Linked DNA regions of Homo sapiens. The protein of the gene in region 7 interacts with the protein of the main gene of each other region in a pairwise test. Each region holds a gene or a part of one and is shown on either strand. Other genes may lie near its edges.

Region 1 (3,884 bases), on a different chromosome or scaffold from region 7:
GAGGGCTCCACTCATGAATGGGATCAGTGCCCTTATAAAAGAAGCTTGAGATAACTCCCTTGCCCTTATGGCATGTCAGGACACAGGAAGAAAGTGCCATCAGTGAGGAGCAAGCCCTCACCAAACACTGAATTTGCTGACACCTTGATCTTAGGCTTCCCAGCCTCCAGAACCATGAGCAACAAATATCTATTGTTTAAAATTACCCAGTCTAAGGTATTTTAGCAGCCCTAACAGACTAAGACAGAAGTGCAGAGGGAGGTGTTGAAGAAGGAGGGGCTCCTAACAGCTCTACAGAACACCCTGGTCTACCCTGGGATTCTGTAGTCTTCAGACCCAGTATGTTTCCCTCACCTCATGTTTCTCTGCTTCTGTTGATTTCAGGTTGAGTCTGAGACTTGCTAATATTGGTCTTAATTGATATTTCCTACATTAAAACAGTCAGGTTCTTAAAGCCCAAGACATACAGCCCCAGGCATTTGCTTTTAAAGCTCAGTCCTATAAATATTTAACCTGGTAGAATCAGAATCCGTGTCAGGGACAGATCAACAGATAGGACATGGGTGTGGCCTTACCCACAGAGACCAGAAGCCTGAAGGTGTCCAGCATTACATCACGGTACAGGGTCCTCTGGGCAGGCTTCAGCTGCCCCCACTCCTCCTGGCTGAAGCCCACTACCACGTCCTCAAACGTCACTTGCTCCTGAAACATCACACGAGTGTCCTCAGCCAAGCCAACCCTGGCACTGGCTGCTGGTGGGGTAGCTGGTAAATGCCAGCCAGGCTGGGTCGGATGGAGTTCCCTTTGGTCTGGGGTTTTGGGTCAGGTTTTTCTGTGGGGCCTGGATGGGTGCCCTGCTGATGAGGTGGAGGATCTTAGAATCTAAGGCATCATGCCCGTTTCCAATAATTTGTCTCTTGAAATAAGAAATGGAGGGAGCCAGCAATAAAGGAGTGGACCAGCCCAGCATGGTGTCGCATGCCCGTGGTCCCAGCTGCTTAACAGGCTGAGGTGGGAGGATCACTTGAGCACGTAAGTTTGAAGCACAGTGAGCCATGATTGCATCACTGCACTTCAGCCTAGGGGATAAACAAAGTTATAAAGCTAGTAGCAGAAGTCTAAAGACTGAATCTGGGTGGTTTTTTTTTTCCCCCGAGACGGAGTCTCGCTTTGTCGCCCAGGCTAGAGTGCAGTGGCATGATCTTGGCTCACTGCAAGCTCCGCCTCCTGGGTTCACGCCATTCTCCTGCCTCAGCCTCTCGAGTAGCTGGGACTACAGGCGCCCGCCACCCCCCCGGCTAATTTTTTTTTGTATTTTTAGTAGAGACGGGGTTTCACCGTGTTCGCCAGGATGGTCTCGATCTCCTGACCTCGTGATCCGCCCACCTCGGCCTCCCAAAGTGCTGGGATTACAGGTGCGAGCCACCGCGCCCGGCCAAATCTGGGTTTGTTTTTTAATTTTTTAGAGACAGGGTTCCACTGTCATTCAGGCTGGAGTGCAGTGGCACATCATGGCTCACTGCAGCCTCCAACTCCTGGGCTCAAGCAATCCTCCCCCATAGCTGGGATTACAGCTACAAGCCATCGCACCAGTCCCCTTGTACGGGTTTTCTGACATTCCTACAGGAGGCTGGTTTCTTCTGGTGGCTTATGGGTGGGGTTAATGTCATCATAAAAAGGCGAGTTCCGCCCCCTTGGCCTCCATGACGTCTGAGGAAGCGGCACTCGATGCGCCATCTTGGAGCGCAGAGCATGCTAAGGCCTTCAACTTCAGACTGCAGAGCCGGGGCACCTACAATTTTCTGACATCACCCAGCCTCAGGTATGCAATGACGGCCGCACAAACATAAAGCCCACTCAGACAGGGACCCGTGCCCGCTGACCTCCAGCGCGGCGTGGGCGGTCCTTTCAGAGGCAGGCTGTGGTTGGGGAGCTTGGCGCGGACTTTAGGAGGCCGGGTGTGCAGGTAGAGGCCGGACACGAGTAGAGGCTAGATGTGCAAATAGAGGCCGGGCACGAGTAGAGGCCGGGCACCAGTAGAGGCCAGGTGCGCGAGTAGAGGCCAGTTGTGCGAGTAGAGGCCGGGCACGAGTAGGGGCCGGGCACGCAAGTAGGGGCCGGGCACAAGGAGGAGGCTGAGCGCGAGTAGGGACGGGGTGCAAAGAGGAGGCCGGGCGTGAGAAGGCCGCGCGCGAGGAGGCCGGGCACGAGGTGGAGGACACGCGCAAGGAGGCCGAGATTCTCACCGGGTCTGTGGAGACGCGCACCCCAGGGGTCATGCCCTGGCTTCTGGCAGGAACGGCTGGCCCTGCTCTGTGGGAAAGGGGAGGTGAGCAGCTGGGGCAGGCAGAGGCGGTGCTCAGGTCCCCAAGCCGGGGAACTGCGCCAGAGCCTGGGGAGCTCCGCGGAGAGCCGTCCAGGGCCCCGCGTACCCGTTTAAGCGCCTGCTGTGTGTGGGGCGGCCCTCCGCTCGGAGAAGGGCAGCCTAGGGTTTTCCCGCCTGTCTGAGGGAAGCTGAAGGCCTGGCGGGTGCGGACACATATCTGCTGCGCAGACTCTGAGCCTTAACGCTACAGTGACAAGGGCCGGGTGGTTGCGGTCCCCTGGCCCTGGGCACTATGCCTCAGTTTCTCTCTTCCATCAACAAAGGTGGCGGCCCAGTGCCCGGTGTGGGGCAGAGGTGGGGCCAGGGGCGGGGCGCGCGTTCCCTCAGGGGCCGTCGGAGCAGCTCCTGTCCAGCTGGGCGTTGGGCCCCGCCCTCCTCTCAGACTAGGGATGCCCCGCAAAGCCTGCCCCCGCCAGCCCCGAAACGGCCTTCCCCAGGCCCCGGGCAGCAAAACGGACTCCACACAGACGCGCGCTGCTGGAAACTCGCCCCGCCAGGGCCTCAGGAAGATCCCCGGACCCCCCGCACCCGGCCCGGCCCGGCCCGGCCTGGCCTCCCCTCCCCCTCCTCGCCGGCCTAGCTCACCCTCCTGACTGCGAGACAAAGGCCGCGGCACCGGCAGCCGACACTGCGCCGGCGCGAGCCTAACTCCATTTCCCAGAGAGCCGCGCGCGCATTTCCGGCCGCCCTCCCCCACCTCGCTCTCGCCCTTGGCGTTCGTGAGCTCTCAGTGCTGCTGGAGCTGGAGTGACTGGGCCTGGTGAAACAGGGCGCGCGGGGTGCCTGGGCATCAACGCGGGATAAGTGCCGCTTGGAACGCCGTGAGCTCCCGGCGCGACCACACGGGCTTTCGTGTTGGAAACTCTACCGTCAGTTTTACTGCTGCAAACAAAGCAATGATTTTTTCAAAACACATACTTTCAACCAAAACATTCACCAAGATCGCACACACGGGAGTCTTTGCATTTTCCACACTGAGGCAGCCATGGAGACTTCACACTGTATTTATTACATGGTTATAAGGAACATCACGTGCAAGACACTAACAATTATGACGACTTTGGACATTGCTAGGTAATTGTCAAAATTGTGCATTTGAACAGCAGCAAAATATTCAAAGCTGGTGTGCCCTCGCTGACACGAAATGAATTGTCATTTTCTGAACATTCACCAAAGCCTGCCAGGCGCTAGGCCTAGGTTCAGCAGCACACAATAGTGAAGCCCCCATTCAAGCGGGCTTCGTTTCACCAGCGTACGTCACACGTCCGTGGAGCAGCGAGACCAGAGGAGCTGGGAAAGCCAGGGCTGAGCCTTGTGCTTTTGCCCTTTTAAGGGAGGACAGATTAATTCCAATCAGCCTGGGCTTGGGAGCTGTATTTGAAGCAGAGGAAAAGTTTTAAGACGGGCATTTTTTTTTCTTTGACTGAAACAACTCTGAAAACAGCAGAGAACACAATACGAATTCTCGTACCACACACAGACACTTGCAAAGATTTGG
Region 2 (3,500 bases), on a different chromosome or scaffold from region 7:
TCCAACTCAAAGTGCTCCAGAGATCGTAGTGTGTTCATTCACAGCCTTGCCACTGCCTGCCACCGCCAAGTCTATTCCTTGCCAGCTAAGTCCCTGAGTTATTGCTTAAGATATTTGGTTTGGGGAACTGTTGGATCAAGTCAAGGGGCTGACAATTTCACCCTTGCTCATGAAAAACCCACCGAAGGAGGAGGCAAGTAACAGAACTTCTCTGGGTTTCAGTTTCTTCACCTGAAAGTGAGATAGCTTCCCAGGGCAATCGCCAAAGTTCCCATCCAGCTGCAAAATCTACATTTCCCATGAATTCTTCTCTTACTCTTACCTCTTAGTTCATGAAAGCCATCTGAGGGATTACAGAGAAAATAACATGCAGGTGCTTTTCTCTCTAACTTCCTTTCCTTTCCTTCCCTCTTTCCTTTTTTCTTTTTTTAAGGAAAAAAGTGAGGAAAGGCATAAAGAAAGAAGGAGTTTTGTGTTATTTGATGGGTCGTAAGCAATTATGCCGACACCAATTAGAAGAAAACTTTGTCTAAGCCTGTGTTTCTTTTTCTCTTTTCTTTTCTAGAGACAGGGTCTCACTTTGTCACCCAGGCTGGACTGCAGTGACGCGATCACAGCTCACTGCAGCCTCGAACTCCTGGGCTCGAACGATCCTCCCACCTCAGCCTTTCAAGTAGCTAGGACTACAGGCATGAGCCACCAAACCCAGCTACTTTTAAAAATTTTTTGTAGAGATAGTCTCGCTATGTTGCCCAGGCTGGTCTCCAACAGCTGGGCTCAAGCGATCCTCCCACTGCAGCCTCCCAAAGTGCTGGGATTACAGGCGTGGACTACCACACCCAGCCCCCAGCCTGTGTTTCTAAAGGGTTTTGTGTCTAGCAACTGCCTGCTTCCTGTCATATCCACGTGCCACTACAATTTTTTAGGTAAAATAACAAATTGAGTCAATTAAAAAACAACTGTCCCTCAGCGATGTTACCCATGAAATTACAGGTTTGATGAGCTAGTTTTAGTTTGTTTGAATGCAAATCAAGATACACCAGTATTGTACAAAAACTGTTCTGTGCACCACACTTGAAATCCTCTGGCATGCCTGCAGTCAGGGCACTTCCATTTGATTGACCCGGAAGAATTCAAAGCTGGCTCAAGCTGTTTAATGCATGACAGAGAAATGAGTGAAGGTTCAGGCTTGTTCACCAAACTTTTCCATCTTTCTATGGTCATTTTTAGAGGTGCTTCAGGAAAGCAAGGAGCCACTCTTTTGTTTAAGCTTTTCTTCTTTTGTTCTGTTGGTGTGAATTTATTGCAATTCACTAGGTTTGTTCGTTTAGTTGTTAATAATGGACTACACATAAACCCACCCCAGTCCTTATTTGGGATACCCAAAGGGGGCTTACCGAGAATGTCTTATGTAACTGGCCCTGACTCCCAGTGGCTGGCAATTCACCTCACTTTGGGGAACACCAGTGTAAGGAAGGAGCACCTTGAGTTGTTTGTTATTGATTACTGACTCTTGTGCTTCTATTCCCCTTTCAACCGTGGGGAGACTCTCACTTTTGAACCTGGGCCGGGTGTGGTGGCTCACTCCTGTAATCTCAGTGCTTTAGGAGGCTGAGGCAGGAGGACTGCTTGAGGTCAGGAGTTCGAGACAAGCCTGGGCAATATAGGGAGAGCCCCTCATCTCTACAAAAAAAAAAAAAAAAATTAGATGGGCATGGTGGCGTGCACCAGTAGTCTCAGCTACTTGGGAGGCTGAGGCAGGAGGATTGCTTGAGCCCAGGAGTTTGAGGTTGTAGTGAACTATGATAACGCCACTGCACTCCAGTCTGGGTGACAAAGTGAGACCCTGTCTCTAAAAGAAAATTTCTGAACCCAAAGTGAACATTCCACAAAGCACTTTTCACTTACTGTTAACCAGATGGCAAACACCTCCAAGACACAGGGATGACCCTACTGCTCTTTTGCCCCCTGTCCCTCCCTAACCCCACAAAAGACAGACTGCCTGGGCTGTCCAGAACATGTAGAGCAAACAAAAGCTGCTCTTGATGATAAGGTGAAGCAGTTGTTCAAAGGAAAAGAACAATACATTCACTAACATAAACTCGTGGAGAAACTCTCTGAGTGGCCAGGTAGGTGGCCTCAAATTGCCTGTGAATAACTTTTTCACAGTCCACACTCATCTCCTAGAGGAGCTTTCTTTTGTTTGTTTGTTTTTGAGATGGAGTTTTCGCTCTTGTTGCCCAGGCTGGAGTGCAATGGCGTGATTTCGGCTCACCACAACCTCCGCCTCCTGGGTTCAAGCGATTCTCCTGCCTCAGTCTCCTGAGTATTTGGGATTACAGGCGTGCACCACCAAGCCCAGCTAATTTTTGTGTTTTTAGTAGAGATGGGGTTTCTCCATGTTGGTCAGGCTGGTATTGAACTCCCGACCTCAGATGATCCACCTGCCTTGGCCTCCCAAAGTGCTGGGATTACAGGCATGAGCCACTGTGCCTGGCCTCCTAGAGGAGTTTTAAGAGTGCAGAGCCTAGCCGGGCACGGTGGCTCACGCCTGTAATCCCAGCACTTTGGGAAGCTGAGGTGGGCCAATCACTTAAAAACAGGAGTTCGAGACCAGCCTGGGCAACATGGTGAAAAAAAACCCACCTCTACTAAAAATACAAAAATTAGCCGGGCACAGTGGTGCATGCCTGAAGCCCCAGCTACTTGGGAGGCTGAGGTGGGAGGATCACTTAAGCCAGGAGGCTGAGGTTGCACTGAGCTGAGATTGTGCCACTGTACTCCAGCCTGAGCGGGGGTGGTGTGGGGGAAGTGCAGGATCTCCCACACTGAGAGCTGGGGATGCTTTCCCAGGAACAAGAGGCCACGCATATTCTTCTCAGTCTTCTCAGTGTCGACTATGCTTTTCGTAGGTGTGTGTACAAGGCTGCTCTTCCCCTGAACAAACACTTCATAGGCGTTATGTTTGGAAATGGTTCCTAAAAAATGTATTTCCTTTTTTTGCAACTCAAGTTGGAGTGTTCTAATCTCCCCCTCCGTGGCAGCTCTCTTACCAGCCTCCCACCTTCCTCCTTTTAAGCTATTTCCCCTTCAGGCCCCTGTCATTTCCTCCCTTAGTCATCGCAATTCCAAAACGGCCCTGTTTTGATTCTACAGTTGCTTCCCCATTCCATTATCGTGTCGGCCAATGCCTGTCTATTCTCAGACCTTTTAAGTTTTGGGGTGATGGTGGCATTCTCCTTAGCTTTTTTTCCCCCCAAGTGTGCTCTATAGGAAATAAAATGTTCAAAGACTACAGGTGATTAAACAGGGGAACCAATAATGAGTATGTGATGGATTTTTTATTAGTCATAATAATTATTTACTACATATGGAGAAAGGGGACCAGGCACTTGGACTTGGAAGCATTTAGAACAGTGCCTGGTGTGCAGCAGGCATTCAATATTTGTTGACGGAATGAAAGGTACATTGTGTTCCTGAATCAAACGTAACACACATAA
Region 3 (3,500 bases), on a different chromosome or scaffold from region 7:
CTGGCAACATGTGGCTATTGAACACTTGAAATGTGGCTACTGCAAATAAAGAATTAAATGTTTGAATTTTTCTTTAATTTTAGCTAGTTTATATTCAAATATAAGTAGCTACATGTGACTATTAGTTCCCATATTAAACAGTGCAGTTCTATGCCTTGGAACCCATAGAGTCTTTTCACCTGAGAATCCTAGATTCACAGAGTCCTGCAGTCAGAGAGTCTTAAAACCATATAACACTTAGATGTTAATGCCTTGTGTAGAAAAAGCCTTTCAATCTCATAGACCTCAAGTCTTGTCCCATTCTCTTCATTTCATCCATATCCCACAGACTAAAACGGCCATGAATGTGATCCTCAGTGACCTTCAAGCCAATGACTACTTCAACATCATCTCCTTTTCTGACACAGTTAATGTTTGGAAAGCTGGAGGCTCAATCCAGGCCACCATCCAGAATGTCCACAGTGCCAAGGACTACCTGCATTGCATGGAAGCCGATGGCTGTAAGTGTTAGATCTACCCACCCAAATGGGCAGGCTGTGGTGATATGGGAAATTCCTGAAACCCTCTCTTCATTCCCCCATCCTCCTCAACTCTCACAGTTCCTGAAATATCAAGACCACATTTCACACAAATATGGTCCTTTGTCCTCTGTGTTCTCCCATCACCCTTTCCTTGTAGAAAGAGCACAGCCGATTCTCCATGTATCTTAGGGCACATTTCTTTTTGGCCTCAGTTTCCTCTTCTTTAAAGCAAACACTTGAAAGAATTTGCTAAACTTTCTTTAAATCAATAATCTAGATATTTATTTCCAAGCATTTGAGGAAGCTGCTGCCCTGATTCTAGCTTTTAAGCAATCGTCTCTGACAACTACTGAAGTCTCCTCTACCCACTGCCTCCTGTCAACTCTGTCCTTTCTTCCCCTGTAGCAAGAAGGTTGGAGGGGGGGGTGCTAGCCTTGGGAGCCTGCCAGTCTGGCTCGGGAATGAGACATCTCCCCCCTCGACCCTGCACCACCAAGGAAACAGACAAAGAACAGTGTGAGACAGAGAGTGATAAAAGCCAAGGACATGTGGGCCCCAATGTCAGATCTCAGCAAGTCTGGGTGGGAGTGGAGAAGTTGGGAAGGAGAAACAGTGGATACAGCCTGAGCAAAGATAAGGAGCTGTGAGCCTGGGAAGTTGATGAGGTGCCCAGTGTGTCTGCAATGGGGGTAGAAGTGACCAGAGAAGATGGTCTCACAATCTATTCCCCAATTAGGGACAGACGTCAACTCAGCTCTGCTGGCAGCTGCTTCAGTGCTGAACCATAGCAACCAGGAGCCTGGGAGGGGCCCCAGTGTGGGGAGGATCCCTCTTATCATCTTCCTGACGGATGGGGAGCCCACGGCCGGCGTGACGACCCCCAGTGTGATCCTCTCCAATGTCCGTCAGGCGCTAGGCCACAGGGTATCCCTTTTCAGCTTGGCCTTTGGGGATGATGCTGACTTTACACTGCTGCGCCGCCTGTCCCTGGAAAACCGGGGAATAGCCCGGCGCATATATGAGGACACTGATGCGGCCCTACAGCTGAAGGGCCTCTATGAGGAGATCTCCATGCCTCTGCTGGCAGATGTGCGTCTGAACTACCTGGGTGGCTTGGTTGGGGCCTCCCCTTGGGCCGTTTTCCCCAACTACTTTGGTGGCTCTGAGCTGGTGGTGGCAGGACAGGTGCAGCCAGGCAAACAGGAACTGGGCATCCACCTGGCAGCCCGTGGCCCCAAGGATCAGCTTCTTGTGGCCCACCACAGTGAAGGGGCCACCAACAACAGCCAGAAGGCCTTTGGTTGCCCAGGGGAGCCAGCCCCCAATGTGGCCCACTTCATCCGCCGCCTCTGGGCCTATGTCACCATTGGAGAACTGCTGGATGCACACTTCCAAGCTCGTGACACCACCACTCGCCACCTGCTGGCTGCCAAAGTCCTCAACCTGTCCCTTGAATACAACTTTGTCACACCTCTGACTTCACTGGTCATGGTGCAACCCAAACAGGCCAGTGAGGAGACCAGGAGACAGACTTCCACCTCTGCTGGGCCAGACACCATCATGCCCTCATCCAGCAGCAGGCATGGCCTAGGGGTAAGCACAGCTCAGCCAGCCTTGGTGCCCAAGGTCATCTCCCCCAAATCAAGGCCTGTGAAACCAAAGTTCTACTTATCCTCAACTACTACTGCCTCTACCAAGAAGATGCTAAGTTCCAAAGAGCTGGAGCCATTGGGAGAGAGCCCTCATACCCTGTCAATGCCCACATACCCAAAGGCCAAAATTCCAGCACAACAGGATTCTGGCACCTTGGCCCAGCCAACTCTCAGGACAAAACCTACCATTCTTGTGCCCTCAAATTCTGGTACTCTGTTGCCTCTGAAGCCCGGCTCTCTATCACACCAGAATCCTGATATATTACCCACGAACTCCAGGACACAAGTCCCACCTGTGAAACCTGGCATCCCAGCCTCGCCCAAAGCTGACACTGTGAAATGTGTTACTCCACTGCATTCCAAACCTGGTGCTCCATCGCACCCCCAACTTGGGGCACTCACATCACAGGCACCTAAAGGCCTGCCACAGTCAAGACCTGGAGTCTCTACACTTCAGGTTCCCAAGTACCCACTACACACCAGACCTAGGGTTCCTGCTCCCAAGACCCGAAACAACATGCCACACCTGGGGCCTGGAATCCTCTTGTCCAAGACCCCTAAAATCTTATTATCTCTTAAACCGAGTGCCCCACCACACCAAATTTCCACAAGCATATCACTTTCCAAGCCTGAGACCCCAAACCCCCATATGCCTCAAACCCCACTACCTCCTAGACCTGACAGACCAAGGCCCCCACTTCCTGAGAGCCTAAGCACATTCCCAAATACAATCTCAAGTTCCACAGGTCCCAGCAGTACCACAACCACCTCTGTCCTTGGAGAACCCCTCCCCATGCCCTTTACTCCCACTCTGCCCCCTGGAAGGTTCTGGCATCAGTATGACCTCCTCCCGGGTCCCCAGAGGACCAGGCAAGTTCTGGGACCATCTAGGCCAGGAGTTCCAACAATGAGCCTACTCAACAGCTCCAGGCCTACACCAGAAGGCAGCCCTCCAAACCTGCCAATCTTGCTGCCTTCTAGCATCCTCCCTGAGGCCATCAGTCTGCTCCTTCTCCCTGAGGAGCTAGAGCTGCTGTCTGAATCAATGGTGGAATCCAAGTTCGTGGAGTCCTTGAACCCACCAGCTTTCTATACCTTCCTCACTCCTGATGAAGATGGTGAGTGCCATGGGTAAGAGGTCGAGCCATGAGGGTGAGGTATGAATGGACAGTACCAGGAGCTGGGAATCTACAAGGCTTATGCAGACTCCAGTGATGGGACAGCTGCTTCCTTGCTTGCTTGCTTGCTTGCTTGCTTGCTTGCTTGCTTGCTTTGGGACTTTGGACAAGTTACTTAACTTCTCTGGGCCTCAGTATACATGCATGGA
Region 4 (3,500 bases), on a different chromosome or scaffold from region 7:
CTAGATTATTTTGGCTGTTCTGGATCTCCCTATGAATTTTAGGATCAGCTTGTTAGTTTCTGCAAAAAGAGACCTGAGATTTTGACAGGGGTTACATTGACTCTGTAGATCACTTGGGGAGTTTTGCCATCTTAACAATATTAACTGTGGAACCTAAATTCCTTTTTGCTGGTGGCACTGCTCACTCAGCTTCCCTAGTCATTGAGTCTGCTGAGTAGGCACTCTGAGACCCATCCATCAAACTGCACAGACAAAACTCCAGCGATGTAAATGTCTCTTTCCTTTTTGAAGAAAGTAACACAGTATACTGTAGTGTCTAATTTAAGGCTTGGGTAAGACATTTAACTCCTGAATTTGTGAAATGGGAGTGCATCTGGCACCTGGACACACATATGACAGATCTGGCTTTCCTTCATGCTAAGGATGGGATGGAGATCTCTAAGATACTCCCATAACCCCTTGCTTCATGCCTGGAGAAGTGTGGTGGGAACTGGGAGACCCCACAGCCCTGGAGGCACCAGGTGGTGATAGGAGAATTGAAGCCAGGCTCCATTTTATCTTGTTTTATCTGTTGGGCAAAGGGGTACAATTTCATTTGAGGAAAGAGTTCTGCTGCTAAAACAATCTTAGCCCCTCACCCCCAATTCACTCACATCATAGTTTGAAGAATGGAATAAAAATAAAAAGGGAGTAATATCACATATTAAAAGTTTAGTTTAGGCCAGGCGCAGTGGCTCATGCCTGTAATCCCAGCACTTTGGGAGGTTGAAGTGGGAGCATTGCCTCAGGCTAGGAGTTTGAGACCCGCCTGGGCAGCAAAGCGAGACTCTATTTCTATAAAACAATTAAAAATTAGTTGGGTGTGACGGCACATGTCTGTAGTCCCACATACTTGGAAGGCTAAGGTGGGAGGATAGCTTGAGCCCCGTTGTTTGACGCTGCAATGAGCTGTGCTCACACTAATGCACTCCAGCTTGGCGACAGAGCAAGACCCTGTCTCAAAAGAAAAAAAAAAGCTTAGTTTACACCCTGACATGTACTTATGTGTTCCAGATGTAATGCTTTGGCACAGCACAAATACATGATTTTATTTTCAAGAAAGAAATAATAAAAAATGGAGTGCCTATATTTGTATCACTTGGAACCTTGTTTTCTAAACTTAAAGAACAACCTGGGAAACTACATTTGAAACTTCAAATCCATTCATACCTCAACTCATCTGGGGTGAGGAGCTCTCATTTTAAACAAACAATGTGTGTGTGTGTGTGTGTGTGTGTGTGTGTGTGTTTGAGAGACAGAGATTAGAGTTATTTATTGCAGTTGTTTCAAAAAAGCAATTTAAAAAAGCATGAATTTGGACTGTGTTTTTAGTTTGTTTCTGGGAGAAGAGAAACTTACATGCAATAGAATATATGTTTTGAGGTCTTCAAAATCTCAGATCTAGGCCAGGCGTGGTGGCTCACGCCTGTAATCCTAGCACTTTGGGAGGCTGAGGCAAGTGGATCACGAGGTCAGGAGTTCAAGACCAGCCTGGCCAAGATGGTGAAACCCCGTCTCTGCTAAAAATACAAAAATTATCCAGACGTGGTGGTGAGTGCCTGTAATCCCAGTTACTAGAGAGAGGCTGAGGCAGAGAATTGCTTGAACCTGGGAGGCAGAGGTTACGGTGAGCCAAGATCACGTCATAGCACTCCAGCTTGGGTGATACAGCGAGACTCGGTCTCAGAAAAAAAAAAAAAAAAAATCAGATCTTTTGCCTTAGCAGATTCCCTTATTTAAGTTGTTGGAACCGGCAGTTCATAGGGATTTTGTTTCCATCCTTTAGTGAGGGGGGTGTGTGCGTGTGTGTGCACATGGAAAGTTAGGGGAAAAACACAATGATATAACCTAACCCCAAAACAAGGAAGCACGTTACACAGTTGAGGTTTGGCGCTTCAGTTCCTGCCCAGTCTCAGAAGGTACAGCTTGGCTGACCTTGTGTGACCTATCTCTATGACACATCTCCCAAGGGGGTGGGGAGGACTGTTTCTCTCCAGCATGGCTTTAGTTTTATAAAAGCCCTGTGCAGTCTTGCAAACTCAAATGGTTTTCTTAACAAATCACTCACATTTCATGTGTTCTGGGCTGGGCAGGGCCTCGCTAATCCTTGGCCAGCTTTGTGAGTCAGAAATTATTTAAATGATTGCCTGAGTCCTTTTGAGGCGAGAGAATTGGCAAGTTAATTTAGGGAGGTGCAATGACTCTTAAACAGCACTGCAGTGAGTGGCAGCATTGATAAATGTGTTAGAAGCTCTATTTTATTGTGATAATAAATGCTAATGAAGAAAATGAACGTATTACCTTTTAGAGTGAGATAAGAATGATGATGCTACCAAATTTTATTAAGCATTTATTGTGTGGTGGAGTATGGTGGCTTCTCCCATGTTTTTGACTGTGACCTATTGTAAAACATAGACTGCAACCTGGTAACCTGGTGTGTGTGTGTGTGTGTGTGTATGTGTGTGTGCGCGCATATCTGAATTATTTGGTGAAACAATAGTTACCCTATGCGTGTCTAGTGTCCTCTGGGCTCAAGTGATCCTCTTGCCTTGGCCTCCAGAGTAACTGGGACTACAGGTGCATGCCACCACACCGGCTAATTTTTTGTTGTTGTTTGTTTGTTTTTGTTTTTTTTGAGACGGAGTCTTGCTCTGTCGCCCAGGCTGGAGTGCAGTGGTGTGATCTTGGCTCACTGCAAGCTCTGCCTCCCAGGTTCACGCCATTCTCCTACCTCAGCCTTCTGAGTAGCTGGGACCACAGGAGCCCGCCACTTTGCCTGGCTAATTTTTTTGTTTTGTTTTTTTTTTTTAGTAGAGACGGGGTTTCACCGTGTTAGCCAATGGTCTCGATCTCCTGACCTCATGATCCGCCCGCCTCGGCCTCTCAAAGTGCTGGGATTACAGGCATGAGCCACCGTGCCTGGTCTCACGCCGGCTAATTTTTTAAATTTTTTGTAGAGACTGGGTCTCTCTGTATTACCCAGGCTGGTCTCAAACTCCTGGCCTCATGTGATTTTCTGGCCTCAGCCTCCCAGTGTGCTGGGATTACAGGTGTGAGCCACTGCACCCACCCTAAAGTTGCATTTGAAAACAAATATATCTACTATGATAGCTTTGATCAGTATATAGACAAATATTATTATTATTATTATTATTATTATTATTATTATTTTGAGACAGAGTCTTGCTGTCACCCAGGCTGGAGTGCAGTGGCGCAATCTTGGCTCACTATAAGCTCTGCCTCCTGGGTTCACGCCATTCTCCCGCCTCAGCCTCCCGAGTAACTGGGAGTACAGGCGCCCGCCACCACGCCCGGCTAATTTTGTTTTTGTATTTTTAGAAGAGACAGGGTTTCACCGTGTTAGCCAGGATAGTCTCGATCTCCTGACCTTGTGATCCACCCGCCTTGGCCTCCCAAAGTACTGGGATTACAGGCGTGAGCCACCGCGCCTGGCCGACAAA
Region 5 (3,500 bases), about 17 Mb from region 7:
CTACCTAAAACAGCAACATCCTCTAAGCCCTGAACTCCTACACAACGTTCTTATATAGAATATAAGCTCCTAAAAGCAAGAAACTTCGCTGGGTTTTGTTTCCTTAACTGATAAATCCTCGTGCCTAGAACCATTCCTGGGACATAGTTCCTGCTCAACAGATATTTGTTGATTAAATGAACAATGCTATTCTGTGTCATCACTGAAGCCTACAGGAACTCAATCTATTTCCTACCTTTATACCTTAACCGACCAACCTTCAAGGAAAAGTGGCAGTAAAGGTCACAGGTGTTGATACCAGGTGTCACACTAAAAGAGATAAGCCCACTTCTGCAGGTCTATAGGGCTCTCATTAAGTGGAATAAGAAGGATTCAGCATACTGTGAAAACAGCATAAAAGGAGCTATGACAAAGTACAATTTATATCATGTACATTGTAGAAGATGAACAAGTATATGAATGAAAATTCAGTACATAAAGTAAATTACTACCTGACTTCTCCATCATTTAAAATACCTGGTGAGTTTCTTATAGGTGGTAGTTAACTACAGCATGTTAAATTTTTTTTTTTTTTTTTGAGACAGAGTCTCGCTCTGTCGCCCAGGCTGGAGTGCAGTGGCCTGATCTCGGCTCACTGCAAGCTCTGCCTCCCAGGTTCACGCCATTCTCCTGCCTCCGCCTCCCGAGTAGCTGGGACTACAGGCGCCCGCCACCAAGCCCAGCTAATTTCTTTTGTATTTTTAGTAGAGACGGGGTTTTACCATGTTAGCTAGGATGGTCTCGATCTTCTGACCTTGTGATCCGCCCGCCTCGGCCTCCCAAAGTGCTGGGATTACAGGTGTGAGGCAACGCACCTGGCCAGCATGTTAAAATTTTTCTATTCTGTTCCATAGTTTGAACCTTAACAGAAAGACTATTTATTCAACCAATAATTAAATTTCAAACATAAATTATACTCAGCTAAAACAAGTAAACCCAGGATTTACCATTTAAGATACTATTTGGAAATAGGTTCAAATATGAAATGCTTTCCAAAGCAGGATCATATTGTAGCACACTCTGGTTTCTCAGTAAACCACAGAAATATATCCTACTTTTATGATTTTTCCCTTTGTATTTTCTCATAGTGAAAGCATCAAGGAAAACTCACAGCTGTGCAAAAGATGCACTGGCATTCCTGGAGTGTGGTCATCTTGTCCAGAGACTGCTCACACAGGCAGAGTTTGCAAGTGATGAGGGGGGCCGGAGCCAGGTCTCCAGGAGTGGGATTTTCAGCAGTCATGGCGAGATAGTGGAGCCTACCAGCTGAGCCCATCAGCCTGTCTTCAGCATTCTTCAGTCTCCTCAATCCCTATAGAAAGGTCCAAAGCAGAAAATATTATATGGATTGATAAAGCTATTGTTTAGCCAACACGTCTGGAGGCCAGCTGATCAAATTCTCACCCTCAGTTATCCCAAAACTTACAGCTAATGCATTTCTGGGAACGACGGGCTAGAGAGTGGTTCACCTACCTCGGCAAGGTATCCCTGAAGTCCTGAAATGTAAGCTGACCTCACTGTCCTGATTCACATCATATGAGCTATGGAAATTAAAAGACCACTATGGTGGGGTGGGAATGGGGAGATGTTGGTCAAGCTTACAAAGTTTCATTTAGATGAGATGAATAAGTTCTGGGGAGCTCTCACGCAGCTTGGTGACTAGAGTTAGTAATAATACACTGTATACTTGAAAATGGCCAAGAGTAGATTTTAAATGATCTCACCACACACACACAAAGAAAAATGTGAAGTGATGATGTTCATTAGCTTGATTTAAGCATTTATATACATAGAGCAAAACATCACATTGTATACTGCAAATGTAATTTGTCAATTATACCTTAATGAAGGTCAGGGGCGGGAAATATCACTATGAGCAAACATATTTAGGAGTTGCATCACTACAATCAATTCAACAGACTCAAAAAGTACTTAAAATAGAATGTCATTCAAAAAGTTAAACAAAGAGGTAACATATGATCCAGCAATCGGGTATATACCCAAAAGAACTGAAAGCAGGGTCTCAAAGAGATATTTGTACACCCATATTCATAGCAACATTATTCACAATAGCCAAACAGTGGAGGCAACCCAAGTGTCCATCAGCAGAAGAATGAGGCTGGGCGCAGTGGCTCATGCCTGTAATCCCAGCACTGTGGGAGGCCGAGGCAGGTGGATTGCTTGAGGTCAGGAGTTCAAGACCAGCCTGGCCAACATGGTGAAACCTCGTCTCTACTAAAAATACAAAATTACAAAAAATACAAAAATACAAAATTAGCCAGGCACAGTGGCACATCTGTAATCCCAGCTACTCAGGAGGCTGAGGCGGGAGAATCACTTGAACCCAGGAGGCAGAGGTTGCAGTGAGTCAAGATTGCGTCACCACACTCCAGCCTGGGTGACAGAATGAAACGTCTCAAAAAATAAAAAATTAAAAAGACAGAAGAACAAACAAAATGTGGTCTATATATACAGTGGAATAAAAAGAAATAAAATTCTGACACATGCTACAACATGGATGAACCTTGAAGACATCATGCTAACTGAAATAAACCAGACAGAAAATCAAATATTGTATGATTCCACTTAAATGAGGTACCTAGAGTAGTCAATTCTGAGAGACAAAAAGAAGAATAGAGGTTACCAGGGGCTGGTGGGAGGGGGAAATGAAGAGTTACTGTTTGTGGGGTTTTTTTTTCCTAGAGAAAGGGTCTCTCTCTGTTGCCCAGGCTCGAGTGTGGTGGCACAATCATAGCTCACTGCAGCCTCGAACTCCTGGACTGACATGACCCTCCCGACTCCACCTCCCGAGTCAGGGTATGCTTCCTCACCTGGCATGTTCAACGGGTACAGAGTTTCTGCTTGGGATGATGAAATAATTGTTTTCCCCATTTTATAGATTAATTGTGATACTGATAAGTTAGGTAATCTGCCAAAGTTCTCAGAGCTTGTACATGGCAGAGCAGAAGACAATCCTCAGCCTTCTGAGGCCACCAAGCCCAGTGCCAGATCCATTACACCAGAGCTGCCTTGTGTGGATATCACATGGACAGACGAAGCAGAGAAAAGAAGGAGGAAGGGGGACAGAAAGAGGAAAAGAGAGTTGAAGTCCATGACTACAGCTATCCTTAAGGTCCCTGAAGCTGCACAGAAACAAAATTTGTCTCCCCACACAGCATGACCATGGGAAAAGACATCTTTAGACTGAAAAATAAAAACTACAGCCAAAGTTCTTCTACTAGATTGTTTTTATTCTGAATCTTTATCTTTAAAAGAGACTAAATAATTGTGAAAATAATTTCTCCACATATTCATATTTTATATCACATCTGGAAATTTCATGTTCTGGTTAAACAAAAGCAAAATCCTATAGTTCTTACTATTTTTAAAGAGTGGCCAATTCTAATAAATTCTGCCATAGAAATAATTGCAAATACACCTCCCCCTACAAGAACCAAGCT
Region 6 (3,500 bases), on a different chromosome or scaffold from region 7:
CCTAAAAGAGCTCCTGAAGGAAGCACTAAACATGGAAAGGAACAACTGGTATCAGCCACTGCAAAAACATGACAAATTGTAAAGACCATTGATGCTAGGAAGAAACTGCATCAACTAACAAGCAAAATAACCAGCTAACATCATAATGACAGGATCAAATTCACACATAACAATATTAACCTTAAATGTAAATGGGCTAAATGCTCCAATTAAAATACACAGACTGCCAAATTGGATAAAGAGTCAAGACCCATCAGTGTGCTGTATTCAGGAGACCCATCTCACATGCAGAGACACACATAGGCTCAAAAGAAGATCTACCAAGCAAATGGAAAACAAAAAAAGGCAGGGGTTGCAATCCTAGTCTCTGATAAAACAGACTTTAAACCAACAAAGATCAGAAGAGACAAAGAAGGCCATTACATAATGATAAAGGGATCAATTAAACAAGAAGAGCTATCCTAAATATATATGCACCCAATACAGGAGCACCTAGATTCATAAAGCAAGTCCTTAGAGAACTACAAAGAGACTTAGACTCCCACACAATAATAATGGGAGACTTTAACACCCCACTGTCAACATTAGACAGATCCATGAGACAGAAAGTTTACAAGGATATCCAGGAATTGAACTCAGCTCTGCACCAAGCGGACCTAATAGACATCTACAGAACTCTCCACCCCAAATCAACAGAATATACATTCTTCTCAGCACCACACCGCACTTATTCCAAAATTGACCACATAGTTGGAAGTAAAGCACTCCTCAACAAATGTAAAAGAACAGAAATTATAACAAACTGTCTCTCAGACCACAGTGCAATCAAACTAGAACTCAGGATTAAGAAACTCACTCAAAACTGCTCAACTACATGGAAACTGGACAACCTGCTCCTGAATGACTACTGGGTACATAATGAAATGAAGGCAGAAATAAAGATGTTCTTTGAAACTGATGAGAACAAAGACACAACATACCAGAATCTCTGGGACACATTTAAGGCAGTGTGTAGAGGGAAATTTATAGCACTAAATGCCCACAACAGAAAGCAGGAAAGATCTAAAATTGACACCCTAACATCACAACTAAAAGAACTAGAGAAGCAAGAGCAAACACATTCAAAAGCTAGCAGAAGGCAAGAAATACCTAAGATTAGAGCAGAACTGAAGGAGATAGAGACACAAAAAACCCTTCAAAAAATCAGTGAATCCAGGAGCCGCTTTTTTGAAAAGATCAACAAAATTGATAGACCACTAGTAAGACTAATAAAGAAGAGAGAAGAATCAAACAGATGCAATAAAAAATGATAAAGGGGATATCACCACTGATCCCACAGAGATACAAACTACCATCAGAGAATACAATAAACACCTCTACGCAAATAAACTAGACAATCTAGAAGAAATGGATAAATTCCTGGACACATACACCCTCCCAAGACTAAACCAGGAAGAAGTTGAATCCTTGAATAGGACAATAATAGGCTCTGAAATTGAGGCAATAATTAACAGCCTACCAACCAAAAAAAGTCCAGGACCAGACAGATTCACAGCCGAATTCTACCAGAGCTACAAAAAGGAGCTGGTACCATTCCTTCTGAAACCATTTCAATCAACAGAAAAAGAGGAAATCCTCCCTAACTCATTTTATGAGGCCAGCATCAACCTGATACCAAAGCCTGGCAGAGACACAACAAAAAAAGAGAATTTTAGACCAATATCCTTGATGAATATTGATGCAAAAATCCTCAATAAAATACTGGCAAACCGAACCCAGCAGCACATCAAAAAGCTTATCCACCATGATCAAGTTGGCTTCATCCCTGGGATGCAAGGCTGCTTCAACATACACAAATCAATAAACGTAATCCATCATATAAACAGAACCAAAGACAAAAACCACGTGATTATCTCAATAGATGCAGAAAAGGCTTTCGACAAAATTCAACAGCCCTTCATGTTAAAAACTCTCGATAAATTAGGTATTGATGGGACGTATCTCAAAAAAATAAGAGCTATTTATGATAAACCCACAGCCAATATCATACTGAATGGACAAAAACTGGAAGCATTCCCTTTGAAAACTGTTACAAGACAGGGATGCCCTCTCTCACCACTCCTATTCAACATAGTGTTGGAAGTTCCGGCCAAGGCAATCAGGCAGGAGAAATAAATAAAGAGTATTCAATTAGGAAAACAGGAAGTCAAATTGTCTCTGTTTGCAGATGACATGATTGTATATTTAGAAAACCCCATCGTCTCAGCCCCAAATCTCCTTAAGCTGATAAGCAACTTCAGCAAAGTCTCAGGATACAAAATCAATGTGCAAAAATCACAAGCATTCTTATACACCAACAACAGACAAACAGAGAGCCAAATCATGAGTGAACTCCCATTCACAATTGCTTCAAAGAGAATAAAATACATAGGAAACCAACTTACAAGGGATGTGAAGGACCTCTTCAAGGAGAATTACAAACCACTGCTCAACAAAATAAAAGAGGACACAAACAAATGGAAGAACATTCCATGCTCATGGATAGGAAGAATAAATATGAAAATGGCCATACTGCCCAAGGTAATTTATAGATTCAATGCCATCCCCGTCAAGCTACCAATGACTTTCTTCACAGAATTGGAAAAAACTACTTTAAAGTTCATATGAAACCAAAAAAGAGCCCACATTGCCAAGACAATCCTAAGCAAAAAGAACAAAGCTAGAGGCATCACGCTACCTGACTTCAATCTATACTACAAGGCTACGGTAACCAAAACAGCATGGTACTGGTACCAAAACAGAGATATAGACCAATAGAACAGAACAGAGCCCTCAGAAATAATACCACACATCTAAAACCATCTGATCTTTGAGAAATCTGACAAAAACAAGAAATGAGGAAAGGATTCCCTCTTTATTAAATGGTGCTGGGAAAACTGGCTAGCCATATGTAGAAAGCTGACACTGGATCCCTTCCTTACACCTTATACAAAAATTAATTCAAGATGGATTAAATACTTAAATGTCAGACCTAAAACCATAAAAACCCTAGAAGAAAACCTAGGCAATACCATTCAGGACATAGGCATGGGCAAGGACTTCACGTCTAAAACACCAAAAGCAATGGCAACAAAAGCCAAAATTGACAAATGGGATCTAATTAAACTAGAGAGCTTCTTCTGCACAGCAAAAAAAAAACTACCATCAGAGTGAACAGGCAACCTGCAGAATGGGAGAAAATTTTTGCAATCTACTCATCTGACGAAGGGCTAATATCCATAATCTACAAAGAACTTAAACAAATTTACAAGAAAAAATCAAACAACCCCATCAAAAAGTGGGTGAAGGGTGTGAACAGACACTTCTCAAAAGAAGACATTTATGCAGCCAACAGACACATGAAAAAATGCTCATCATCACTGGCCATCAAAGAAATGCAAATCAAAACCACAATGAGATACCATCTCACACCAGTTAGAATGGCAATCATTAACAAGTCA
Region 7 (3,500 bases):
GACCTGTCCTCTGTGATCCAGACTACCTGAGGCTCGCCTCTTCTTACGATTGTCAGAAATACATTAGTTACGGAGTGAAGGAACCAGAGCAACCTTGCCCAGATCCTGGGCCTGAGAGTTGGCACTCACGGGAGCTGTGGTGGGCTGCGGCCAGCCTGGCCAGCCCAGCTCCCTGTGACGTCATGTCGGCCTTACCTCATCCCACTCCGAGGCGAAGGAGGGTGACTTCTCTAGCCTTTTCTTCCCAATGCTGCAGTTGGATAAGGACTCACTCCGACTCCCCATGGTAGCGTCCTCTGTGGGTGAGCAGGTCAGGAGATCAGAGTCAGACTTGGACAAGCTGCGGCTGAGTTTGAGTTCAGCTTTGGGTTTGCTAGTGGGAGGCGCTCGGCTCCTGGCCCCACTCCGGTCTCCTTCCTCAGCACCACCAGGGTGCGGAGATGCTGTGTGAGTCAAAGTTTCAGGGTGCGAGCGGCTGTTGGTGGTGGGCAGGCCTGTGAGGTAGCCCACTCTCTTGCTCTGGTCCAGGGCACTGGGCTGGGAGGCTCCAGGAGCATGCACACCCGTCTCCTCCAGCTGCATGCTGGCCTTGTGGCAGGCGCCCTGCTGGGGGGACCCGTCTGGATGGCTCTGGCCAGCGGTACAGAGCAGCTGGAAAGGGTCCTGCCCCACCTCGCACACCGGGGAGGAGCCGTGGAGGAGGCCTGAGAACTGCTCTGGGACCTGCCCGTCCTGCCCCTCCGCAGAGTCCTGGCTCCGGCTGCTGCTGCTCCGCCTGTGGTCTTGGAGTGGACGGAGAGACAGAGAAATAAAAAATTAAACGTGGCAAAAATCAACAAAGTTCCAATGCAGCAAGCATATGGCAAAGCAGAGGAATTCACAGAGAAACAGAGAGAGAAACTGGATAGGCTGGGGAGGGGGAGAGGAGAGAAGAAGAGAGAGGAAGGAAGACAGTTTTCATATTGTTCTTAATGTTCAATTTGTACCCAAAGTCAGAGCATTTATGAAATTCCAAACACTGGCCTGATTAATGCTATCTGGCAGCCTTCCCTGTTGTTAGATTTCTGTTAACATTAACGACCAGACCTTGCTATATAAGGCGAGAAGAGTGTTAAGTATAACCTAGAGAAAGGACACAAGTCAGGACAGAGTGAGTGAACATGAAGCAAAAGTAAGAGCACCAGTGAGCAAGCGCGAGCAGGGAGACCCACTCCTGGAACATCTGATACATTTCCATAAAGGCCAAAGTGTTATTTAAAGGCCACCCGCCCTCCCTTCCTCTGGCAAGCAGCAACAGAAAAAAAAAAAAAAAAAAAAAAGAGGTCATGATCCACAACCTGCAACTTCTGGAATTCCTTAACAGAAACAAAACGGCAGAGAAATAACTGCTTCCTTCCTCGGAGGGGGCCATTCCGAGTTCCACGCCTCATCCTTCCTTCCTCAGGGAGCACAGACTTTTCTTTCTCTCTCTCTTTTTTTTTTTTTTTTTTGAGAATGTGCACATCTTGCTTCTTCCAAAATCTCCCAGCTGCTCATATTTGTTTAAGTTTAACCTTAGTTGATCCACTGAAAACAAAATGGTCTAATTTGTCAATGCCAGGAGACATTTGCAGTTCTCTCGAGACTTCCCTAACATCCTAGAAATCTGACACTACTAGCTCATGAGGCCAGCTACTACTGTACACTCAAATACCTCGCCCTGAAGTAGCATAAATAATTGGCCAAATCAGAATCTAACATCAGCACTACACTGGCACACCCAGGGGCTTTCCTTGCATGAACTCAGCCCCATTAAAGATTTTAACCCACATCATCAGAGTAAATAACACTATGTCCAGCACTAGCTCACATTCCATAATATTCAACTTAACCTTCTCTATAAGTGGGATCTATTGCACCTATACCAAACAATTCCCTAGTTTGCTCAAAACTCTCAAGAACTATTCATGAGCTCAGAGAATCTTAGAACCAAAAGGGTCAACTATGTTTACAGATGAGGAGTCTTAGTGGTTACCCCAGGTGGTGCAGGAGAAGACTTCAACCTAGAAGCCTGAAGATCTGGCTCTGGTCCTGGCTGAGCTGTTCTCTAGCTGTGTGGCCTTGGCAGTGATTTCATCTTATTGGGCCTCAGCGTCTAAAGTGACTGGGCTGGGCTGCATGATACTTAAAAATCCCTTTAATGTCATGATAGTGATGAGAATCCAGGTCTCCACCATGTCATGATGGCACACTTCTCCCCCTTAGGGATGTGAGATGCCTGCCTGGGTACCTCTCCTGTTGCTGTCTACACAGCACCCACTCTCCCTCATCAGCATGCCTGAAGGCCCAAAGCCCCTTCTTGAGGTTCAGTTCTGCAACTGGAGAGGGTAGCCAGGTGAGGAGGGGTGCAAAATGAGCAGTGCTTTATAAACACAATGTACTAAAACACAGTCTCCAATGCCCAAGCATGACGCTACTCTCCTGCAACAGTGGTTTTTTCAAAACAGCCTTTAAGAAATGTCTCAACAACCAGCTCTCACAGTGAGCCCAACTCGCTGAGGTCTGAGCAGGGATACAGTTCTCCCATCGCCCCCTCTCCCCTCCCAGCTCCAGAAGAGCAGTTCAGTCTCCACAGTCTGTTCAGCTTTTCACGAGTCTAGAGAAGTGGCCAGGGGCAGCCAATTAGCTCCACTTTATGGCTCTGATTACTTATCCACAGGAGCACAGAAGCACCAACTTTGGCATCTCTCTCCTCTACACTTCTTTATTTTTTTTTTGAGACCAAGTCTTGCTCTGTTGCCCAGGCTGGAATGCAGTTGCACACTCTTGGCTCACTGCAACCTCTGCCTCCTGGGTTCAAGCGATTCTCCCATCTCAGCCTCCTGAGTGGCTGGGAGTACAGGTGTGTGCCACCACGCCCAGCTAATTTTATTGTATTTTTAGTAGAGACGGGGTTTTGCCATGTTGGCCAGGCTGGTCTCAAACTCCTCGCCTCAAGTGATCTGCCTGCCTTGGCCTCCCAAAGTGCTGGATTATAGGCGTGAGCCACTGTGTTGGGCCCCTCCTCTACACTTGACCACTTTGGGACTTTCAAACTTGACCACTTTGGGACTTTCACACCTCAACTCAACTTAAAGGTCAGGTCCTGAGCAATGAACAAACCCTGAAAAACTTGAATCCTTTCTCTAGGGAAGAAGGAATGCTGATTACATAAGAGTTTCATATAGCTTAACCAAGGCCCCAGGAAGCCACGACTCATGGCTACGAATATTACATATAACAACTGGCAGCCAGAACAAAGCTACCCAGTGATGTTGCATGGTGGGGCTACAGTGAGGATGACACATGACCATTTAATGTGGTTCAGGTCAATAGTACTTCCTAGGAGAAGCTGATGGGGAGAGTTAATCAGGCTGTAAAATTTGCCATCTCTGGGACCACATTCTAATAGCCGACTTCCTACAGATCCTGGCCCAAGGTACAATGTCCCTCTGACTATATTTGAATGCAAGATGACTTTG

Evidence for each region.
Region 1: the proteins of ANKS1A (region 7) and ZNF135 interact in a two-hybrid assay, tested with the Homo sapiens proteins (one large-scale study listed by BioGRID).
Region 2: the proteins of ANKS1A (region 7) and CASS4 interact in a two-hybrid assay, tested with the Homo sapiens proteins (one large-scale study listed by IntAct).
Region 3: the proteins of ANKS1A (region 7) and ITIH6 interact in a two-hybrid assay, tested with the Homo sapiens proteins (one large-scale study listed by BioGRID).
Region 4: the proteins of ANKS1A (region 7) and SPATA12 interact in a two-hybrid assay, tested with the Homo sapiens proteins (one large-scale study listed by BioGRID).
Region 5: the proteins of ANKS1A (region 7) and RNF144B interact in a two-hybrid assay, tested with the Homo sapiens proteins (one large-scale study listed by BioGRID).
Region 6: the proteins of ANKS1A (region 7) and ANKRD55 interact in a two-hybrid assay, tested with the Homo sapiens proteins (one large-scale study listed by BioGRID).

What each region holds. Positions count from the first base shown.
Region 1 is NC_000019.10:58,058,398-58,062,281, reverse strand, and holds the start of ZNF135 (zinc finger protein 135), read right to left. Parts: upstream 2,433-3,884; intron 2,314-2,432; 5' UTR 2,280-2,313; coding exon 2,247-2,279; exon of another isoform or gene 1,884-2,246; intron 703-1,883; coding exon 576-702; intron 1-575. UniProt on the Homo sapiens protein: Plays a role in the regulation of cell morphology and cytoskeletal organization. May be involved in transcriptional regulation.
Region 2 is NC_000020.11:56,418,760-56,422,259, reverse strand, and holds part of CASS4 (cas scaffolding protein family member 4), read right to left. Parts: intron 1-3,500. UniProt on the Homo sapiens protein: Docking protein that plays a role in tyrosine kinase-based signaling related to cell adhesion and cell spreading. Regulates PTK2/FAK1 activity, focal adhesion integrity, and cell spreading.
Region 3 is NC_000023.11:54,756,756-54,760,255, reverse strand, and holds part of ITIH6 (inter-alpha-trypsin inhibitor heavy chain H6 precursor), read left to right. Parts: intron 1-328; coding exon 329-500; intron 501-1,257; coding exon 1,258-3,291; intron 3,292-3,500.
Region 4 is NC_000003.12:57,067,164-57,070,663, reverse strand, and holds part of SPATA12 (spermatogenesis-associated protein 12), read right to left. Parts: intron 1-3,500.
Region 5 is NC_000006.12:18,397,350-18,400,849, reverse strand, and holds part of RNF144B (E3 ubiquitin-protein ligase RNF144B), read right to left. Parts: intron 1,352-3,500; 5' UTR 1,316-1,351; coding exon 1,151-1,315; intron 1-1,150.
Region 6 is NC_000005.10:56,223,331-56,226,830, forward strand, and holds part of ANKRD55 (ankyrin repeat domain-containing protein 55), read right to left. Parts: intron 1-3,500.
Region 7 is NC_000006.12:35,014,755-35,018,254, reverse strand, and holds part of ANKS1A (ankyrin repeat and SAM domain-containing protein 1A), read right to left. Parts: intron 1,230-3,500; exon of another isoform or gene 1,182-1,229; intron 783-1,181; coding exon 196-782; intron 1-195. UniProt on the Homo sapiens protein: Regulator of different signaling pathways. Regulates EPHA8 receptor tyrosine kinase signaling to control cell migration and neurite retraction.